Linked DNA regions of Homo sapiens. The protein of the gene in region 2 purifies or fractionates together with the protein of the main gene of each other region. This does not show direct contact. Each region holds a gene or a part of one and is shown on either strand. Other genes may lie near its edges. The genes, in order: MYH11 and ZFAND5.

The links.
Region 1: the proteins of ZFAND5 (region 2) and MYH11 purify together in Homo sapiens (affinity purification with mass spectrometry; one large-scale study listed by BioGRID and IntAct). This does not show direct contact.

The regions. Positions count from the first base shown.
Region 1 is NC_000016.10:15,846,952-15,850,766, forward strand, and holds part of MYH11 (myosin-11), read right to left. Parts: intron 1-3,815. UniProt on the Homo sapiens protein: Muscle contraction.
Region 2 is NC_000009.12:72,350,702-72,355,312, forward strand, and holds the end of ZFAND5 (AN1-type zinc finger protein 5), read right to left. Parts: 3' UTR 712-4,611; downstream 1-711. UniProt on the Homo sapiens protein: Involved in protein degradation via the ubiquitin-proteasome system. May act by anchoring ubiquitinated proteins to the proteasome. Plays a role in ubiquitin-mediated protein degradation during muscle atrophy.

The DNA.
Region 1 (3,815 bases), on a different chromosome or scaffold from region 2:
CTATAAAAAATATATCCTCTTGAAAATTCATCAAGCTGCACACTTTTTTGCACATCAAGCGTACTTTTTTGGTTGTAAAGTACACTTCATTTTCCTTCCCTCTTATCTTTAATTGTGGTAAAATACAGCTAACATTCACCACCTCGGCCACTTAAACACAGTTCAGTAGCATTAAGTATATTGATATTCTTGTGCAATAATGAAGAGTTTGTGCAGATGGTAGCCAATTACATCCCAAGAGGGCTAGGAGAGTGTTTCATTTGTTCTAAGCACTATGACAAGTAAAGTGGACTTCTTTTTTTTTTTTTTTTTTTTCTGAGACAGGGTCTTGCTCTGTCGCCCAGGCTGGAGTGCAGTGGCATGACCTCAGCTCACGGCAACCTCCGCCTCCCAGGCTCAAGTGATCCTCCCACCCCAGCCTCCCAAATAGTTGGGACCACAGGCACCTGCCACCATGCCCAGCTATTTTCCTGTATTCTTTGTAGAGACGGGGTTTCACCATGTTGTCCAGGCTGAGGTCTTGAACTCCTGACCTCAAGTGATCTGCCTGCCTCGGTCTCCCAAAGTGCTGGGATTACAGGCATGAGCCGCTGTGCCCAGCCCTAAGTGGGCTCTTCCTAATTGCCATGTGGATGAGTTGCCTTAAAAGTCAGAAAAAATAGCAAAAGCTACAACAGAAAAATAAAAGGACACGCACGCCTCCATTGCCTGGGACCCTGTCTAACCTCAGACTTAAAAACACAAACAAGATCAAGTGCAAAGATTCAGTCTCTGTACAAAAAAGGAGAGCTTGGAGCAGGCTGGATTCCCTCTGGCTTTGATGTCTCTGACAGTTACGACGTGCAAAATCTGCTTTGGTCAAAAGACAGCAAGATGGGGGATGAGAAGCTTCGACTCATGCTAGAATGGTGTTTTCCATAGCATGCCCCTTGGAACCCTAATTCCCTGAAATATCTGGGCTGGGGTGGAGCTGCGGAGGTTGAGAAGCTCTTCAAACAGTGGCGCAGTCAAGGTCAAATCCATCTGGAAGGTGCTACATATTCCCCTTTCCCTCATTGAGACACAAAACACACAACAGGACACTTGAGTCTCTGGCAGATCCGGAAACCTGAAAGCTGTTTTGCTCCTACGAGCCTTGGGTCCCCAAAACAACATTTAGCCACAGATTTGCCAAATGTTTTGAGAATGTTTTCCTAAAAATTTGCCAAATTTTTGAGAAAATTCAGTGAGCCTGACAAATTAATAATACTAATACTAGTAATAATAGTTGCTAAGTCTTTTTTTTTTTTTTTTTTTTTTGACACAGAGTCTCGCTCTGTTACCCAGGCTGGAGTGCAGTGACGCAATCTCAGCTCACTGCAACCTCCACGTTTCTGGGTTCAAGTGATTCTCGTGCCTCAGCCTCCCAAGTAGCTGGGACTACAGGCATGCGCTACCATGCCTGGCTAATTTTTGTATTTTTAGTAGAGATGAGGTTTCACCATATTGGCCAGGCTGGTCTTGAACTCCAGGCCTCAAGCAATCCTCCCACCTTGGCCCCCCAAAGTGCTGGGATTACAGGCGTGAGCCACCGCAGCTGGCCACAAACTCTGCACTGTGACTCTTGGGCTGCGTCATTCTGTGTCGTGAGGGGAGCTCTTCCGTGCATTGTGGGATGTTCCGCAGCATCCCTGGTCTCTGCCCACCTGATGCCAGTAGCACCCCTTCCTCCACTCATGACAATCAAAAATGTCTCCAGACACTGCTAGATGTCCCCTGGGGTGGCAAAACTGCTTCCAGTTGAGAACCACAGCTTTAGAATAAAAACAAGGGCTGTCTTGGGAAAGGCAGTTAAAGCTGAGAGCAGCTCTCACTTAGTCAAACTCAACTCGGAATACCAACTGCAGAAGATCAGACGGGGGCAAGGTGAACACACTGGACCAGAGACGGACCGCCAGTTGGCCCAACCCCAGGGACACTCTTCATCTACCTTGATGCACCTTCCCAACCCTCCCTCCTCCACCATCGCTCATGTTTAAGGTCCTGCATCAGCTCCAAGGGCTGAAAGGACATCTCTGAAATTACTACCCAGAACTGCTGACCACGAAGTACAGTTCACTCATCAAGAGCTGCTCTCAATGTTTTTGGTTGGGGGAAGGGTCTCACTATATGCCCAGGGTGGAGTGCAGTGGTGCAATCATAGCTTACTGCAGGCTCAAACTCATGGGCTCAAGGGATCCTCCCACCTCAGGTGTGGGCCACTATGCCCGGCTTATTTTTTGTAGAGATGGGGGTCTTGCTATTTTGCCTAGGCTGGTCTCAAACTCCTGATCTCAAATGATCCTCCTGCCTTGGCTTCCCAAAGCTCTAGGATGACAGGCGTGAGTCACCTCGTCCAACTTTCTCGAATGTTTGGATGAAAACAAATGACTCTGTCACCTTTGGCATTAGCGATGTTTGACACATCTGAGTGTGTCAGCCTTGTTTACAGTCCTGTCCTGACCAACAACTGCTTCATTCTTTTTTTTTGAGACAGGGTCTGGCTCTGTTGCCCAGGCTAGAGTGAAGTGGCGCGATCTCTGCTTTCTGCAAACTCTGCCTCCCAGGCTCAAGCCATTCTCCCACCTCAGCCTCCCAAGTAGCTGGGATCACAGGCACGCACCAGAACACCCAGCTAATTTTTTAATTCTTGCATTTTTTTGTAGAGACAGGGGTCTCACTTTGTGGCCCAGGCTGGTCTCAAACTCCTGAGCTCAAGCGATCTGCCTGCCTCAGCCTCCCAAAGTGCTAGGATTACAAGCATGAGCCACCGCGCCCAGGCTGCTTCATTTTTTGAGCACAAACAAGCTAATCATTAGCCTCTGGAAGACCTTAGGATGTCAAGTAACGAGTCTCAGCTTTGCCCCAAACCTGCTGGGTGACTCTGGACAAGTCACTTGCCCTCTCTGGGCCTTGTATTTTTCATTTAGGGAAAATAAATCAATGGTAGGCTGGCCCAGCTCTACCATTTTATGGGACCCGTCTGTGACTCCCAGTCAAAGGGCTGAAACTGGACCAACTGAGAATGTCAGGTTGCTTTAGTTTGTTTTACCATCAGTTTCATTTTTCCCAGAAGAACTCAGGGGCAAAAGATCTTGCCCTCTCTGCTTCAGCATTAATAAAAAGTAAATTAGGCCGGGCATGGTGGCTGATGCCTGTAATCCCAGTACTTCGGGAGGCCGAGGCAGGCGGATAACCTGAGGTCAGTAGTTCAAGACCAGCCTGGCCAACATGGTGAAACCCCGTCTCTACTAAAAATACAAAAAATAGCCAGGTGTGGTGGTGGGCGCCTGTAATACCAGCTACTCAGGAGGCTGAGGAAGGAGAATCGCTTGAACCCAGGAGGTGGAGGGTGCAGTGAGCTGAGATCCCATCACTGCACTCCAGCCTGGGCGACAAGAGCAAAACTCTGTCTTGAAAATAAATAAATAAATAGTAAATTAAATATCCCAGAGCCCAGAGAGTATAGGATTTGCACATCACCTCACCTGGTCAACAGCTTCCCTCAGGATTTTACTGCCAAGCCATTGGCTAAAGATTTTGGACCAGAGACAAAAACCCAAATGTTTTTGGAGATCAGGTAAGTAATACAGAGTGACCCAGACCAGATGTTAGAGTATTGCTTATATTCTAAATACCATGCAGGGTTCAGCACTGTGGCTCACGTCTGTAATCCCAACACTGGGAGGCCAAGGCAGGCAGTTCGCTTGAGCTTAGGAGTTTGACACCAGCCTGCGCAACATGGTGAAACCCCATCTCTACAGAAAATACAAAAATTAGCCAGGCATGGCAGCACA
Region 2 (4,611 bases):
AACATGACCCTACTAAGGAAGAACTTTTCTCATTAGGGTGGACATGAAACCACAACACCAAGATGTGTAAGAGTTTTCTTTAGAGAAATGCTTGAGGTTCTATAATAGTAGACAAATACCACACAACAGAAAATCTAAATCGTATTTGTCAACTGGTATTGTAGTTGCATGTATGAATACATTTTTAGTGATGGGAAGGGACAAGAGGGCAGAAGCATATTACATAGCAAGGACCAGCCAACATTTTTAATTTATCCTGGATTATATTCACAAGATCAGTCTGAAAAATTTACCCAGACACAAGTATTTAAGATGAGGTCATTAGGCTAATTTATTTGTATTTTTTTTCCTGGCTGATGCCTGAGCTCTACAAGGTAAGTGCTTAATGTTATTTTGTTAATAGTTCTTGCACTTATCTAAAATTTAAGAATGTGTAACAAGGATTTCCTGTTAACTTCTGAGTTGACTGAAAAATTACCCCAATTCCTGAGCAGCTTTGGTTACATTATCAATATATACAGGCTGAGGTCCTGTGGTGTCAATAAAAATCATCATAAAAAATGTATTCAACACAGATTAGCCAACTAGAAAATAATCTGTAACTTCTTTCATCTTGCTCTTAACTACTTAAGTATCCTTAGCAACATCCCTACCCATAATAAAAGGAAAGTGGCACTTAGCAGTTGCAGACAAAATGGAGTCTTACATTTATGGCACAAAACAAAACAAAAAAAGTCTTACATTTATTAACTTTACTTCTATGGCTGTAACAGAAATACTCTGGAAGAAAACACAGAAACAGTCTTTGCTTTTATATAAATTTAAAACCAGCACTTGTGCATAGAAATAGCTATAAAATATTAAATGGCACTTTTGTATTCTGTTGTACTTTTTTTTTTTTTTTTACATTTGCTACACGGTATTTATTCAATGACTGTATATTTAGTCACCACCTCAACCACTGCTAAGCTCTCTTCATGTCTATCTGTACCAGTTTCCCATCTTAGACTGTGATGTCAACTGGCAAGGGCTGGCTGTTGGCCGATTCACCATGACTGACATGGTGCATGTTCACTTGTTTTTAAAGCAGATTGTACAAACAGGAGAAACAAACAGGGGAAACTGTATTTCCAGTTTCTTTTTGTTAACAGCCTGTTGCCTCACCCATGCAAACTCTTCTAGCTAGTTTAAGGCTACATAATCTTATTGCTAATCAACCAGCAACCATACCTATCACTCTCCAAAATTATAAGTTAATACTTATGGACAAAAACCACTATTGAGAACTTTGCATTCAAACAGACAAGAGTCGGCCAGGCGCAGTGGCTCACACCTGTAATCCCAGCATTTTGGGAGGCCGGGGTGGGCGGATCATGAGGTCAGGAGATCGAGACCACCCTGGCTAACACGGTGAAACCCTCTCTCTACTAAAAATACAAAAAAACCCAAAAAACAAAAAACATTAGCCAGGTGTGGTGACGGGTGCCTGTAGTCCCAACTACTCCGGAGGCTGAGCCAGGAGAATGGCGTGAACCCGGGAGGCGGAACTTGCAGTGAGCTGAGACCATGCCATTTTACTCCAGCCTGGGCGACGGAGCCTCTGTCTCAAACAAACAAAACAAAACAAAAACAGACAAGAGTCAAATCAAGTCTTTGTACATATTCAAATATTTACATGTGGAAAAGATTAAATAACCTTTCTAAATTATGAGTTACCTAAAATGTATGTGTGCCTTTGAAATGGAGGATATGGGACAGCTTGAGAGGCTTTGCTTCTCAGTGTGTATTGATAAATCCATGTGAATGTTATTACCAACCCCCAAAATACAATAATAGTATGCTTAACATCTTGCTATTATTAGATTATTTCCCCAATTTTAGTTATTTCCTAGCAACTTTATTTAATGCAGATCTCTTGCAAAGAAAGCCTTACGGAAAAGAATGATTCTAATGACTTTAAACTGCAAGTTTAAATAACAAATCTTTATCTTTTCACTATACAACTTGATGTAACCAATCCTGTTCTCAAAGTTTTCTTCCCAAGTTATGGAAACCATTATTCCAGAACATTAAGACAATAGCAAATACAATGTGCCAGGCACAGTTTTAAGTGTTGTCACCTTCACACTCCTGAAGGTGGTTGCTGTCTTCATTTAAGAGATGAAGCAGTCCAAAGTGGACCTAAAATAACTTGCCCAAAATCACGGGCTGGTTCCAGGGTCCCTCATCTTAATCACTATGCCATAATGCTCAGAAACAGCTTTCCCTCACAAACTAATTTTCCCCACGTTGTGGGAAGCCTACCTAGGATCAAACCTGAGGCTCTAGTTTTACAGATCAGGCACACTGAAGATGAGGTTTTCAAAAAGGACTCACCCATTTATACTGCGAATTCATGTGGTCACAGCCTAACAAAACTTCAGGTCATGGGGGTGTAAATATTTGTCTGCTTATGTAAGGGAAACATGGTATATTATTAAATTGCTTAATATCTGTACATTTCAAAGGACTTCATGGCCTTGCATTCAGGTTTGAATGCAAGAATTTGGGTAGAACTGAGTCCTCTCAGGTGCCTTACACACTGATTCCCTTTCTCCCCAGTCAATGGACAACCCTGACAAATCTTTGTTCTGATCTGGTTTAATGTTTCTTGTAAAACAAACAAACAAAAAAAAAACAAAAAAAACTGATTGGCCGGGTGCGGTGCCTCACGCCTGTAATCCCAGCACTTTGGGAGGCCGAGGCGGGCAGCTCACCTGAGGTCAGGAGTTCAAGACCAGCCTGACCAACATGGAGAAACTGTCTCTATTAAAAATACAAAAATTAGCTGGGCGTGGTGGCTGGTGCCTGTGATCCCAGCTACTTAGGAGGCAGAGGCAGGAGAATCACTTGAACCCAGGAGGCAGAGGTTGCAGTGAGCCAAGATTACGCCATTGCACTGCAGCCTGGCCAAACAAAAATCTATCTCTTGCTACTACTCAGACCTTCAGAGTGATGGAGTCCGAGGGCTCATCTTACCTTCTCTATACCACTCTTACTTCCATTTTTAACTTGAAAAATTAAGTTGCCCTTCTAAATCTTCAACTTCTAAATTTTCAACTCAATTGTGACTTTTCATATTCAGAGAAATACTACCCTATGTCAGTATAGGAACTTTGACATACATATGTACCTCCCTAACTTGAAGCAAAAGTAGCAGCATGCAAAGAACTGACAGATAAAACTAGGGTATTTCCACCCCAAACTCCATCACAGAGAAGCAACAGTTGCACTCTGGTAATCATTTACCCCAGGTAAAGTCAACATGTACCTGTCACCCCTTGTTCTTTATGATCTGGCATAAACGCTACAGAGACCAAGTCCATGGGTGAATCTCTGTATTAGAGCCAAACCCAAAACAGAAATAAAACAGAACTCTTTTTGTAAACTAAGTCATACCTACTTTCTTCTTCAGAATTGTCATAAAACATCATCTTTTACAACATGGAGAAGCGAGGTAGGCCATAATTGTTCAAATTTCATCTTTCTCAAATTTTAAAATTGTTTTAATCCCAAAGGTGCCTATTGAATTCTTCAAAAATAAACTGCCTATCAGGTATCATACCTGCAAATGCTTCTAATATCTCTTGATTATCACTTGAACAAGTTCAGCGATGGCAAAGGAAAAAAAATTATATAGCCATGTAAAGTAACATTTTCTAATTTTCCCCCTTTAGGACTCCAACTATGGCTTAAAAACCCAATGAACAAGTGAAGTTTCCCTCTGTACATGGCTTTTATTATTTACATAATACAATATAGCATCAATGCTGAATAGCATGATTATGTGCAATACATAAATATGAACTATCTGTACACATCTGCAGGTCTAACTCAGAACTAAGGTACATAAAATTGAAAGCAAAACTGAATGCTTTAAGAATAAAAGTAAAAACTAGGACTGAACATTGCAATAAATCAGAAGTAGTGCCTCGTGTACATACTTAACTATTTACAGATGAAAACAGGCATTACCACAACACTAACTATACTCATTTATATATAAAAAACACAAGTTTCATACATCACAAAAAACCTTCCATTATAACACAGAAGTGATTATTACCAGACAAGCATCAGTGAAGTATACTGCCTTTTCTAGTTGTTATTGTACAATGCTGTAGATAATGCAGCCCATGCAATACACCCAAGAACACTAGAGTCCTACACCCAAGTACAATATGATAAAGCAGCCCTCTGCAAGTGGTGCTGGATACCACTAAGAAGTCTACTGCAGCCATGTTGGTTATGATTTTCCATGCAGAAGGGTACAGTTACATTAAGAACTGAAGTCTTTTAAAAAGCTTTAAACATTCTTTCTTGAACCAAAACATTCGACAAAAGATGCACATGAAAAATTATTCAGATACCTTTGCAACTTAAAATTCAGATGCATGTTATTCAATAGAGCTGCTGTATGTGAAAACCAAACGTAGAGTTTAAATTTCTTCTTGTAAACAAATTAATCCTAGTGCAGTTCTGTGCTACACATTTTTAGCAATGAGTAATGCAGACATCTTCTGGTGCAGGCCAGTACAATAAGCTTCAAAGGTTATCTCAAGACCCTGTTGT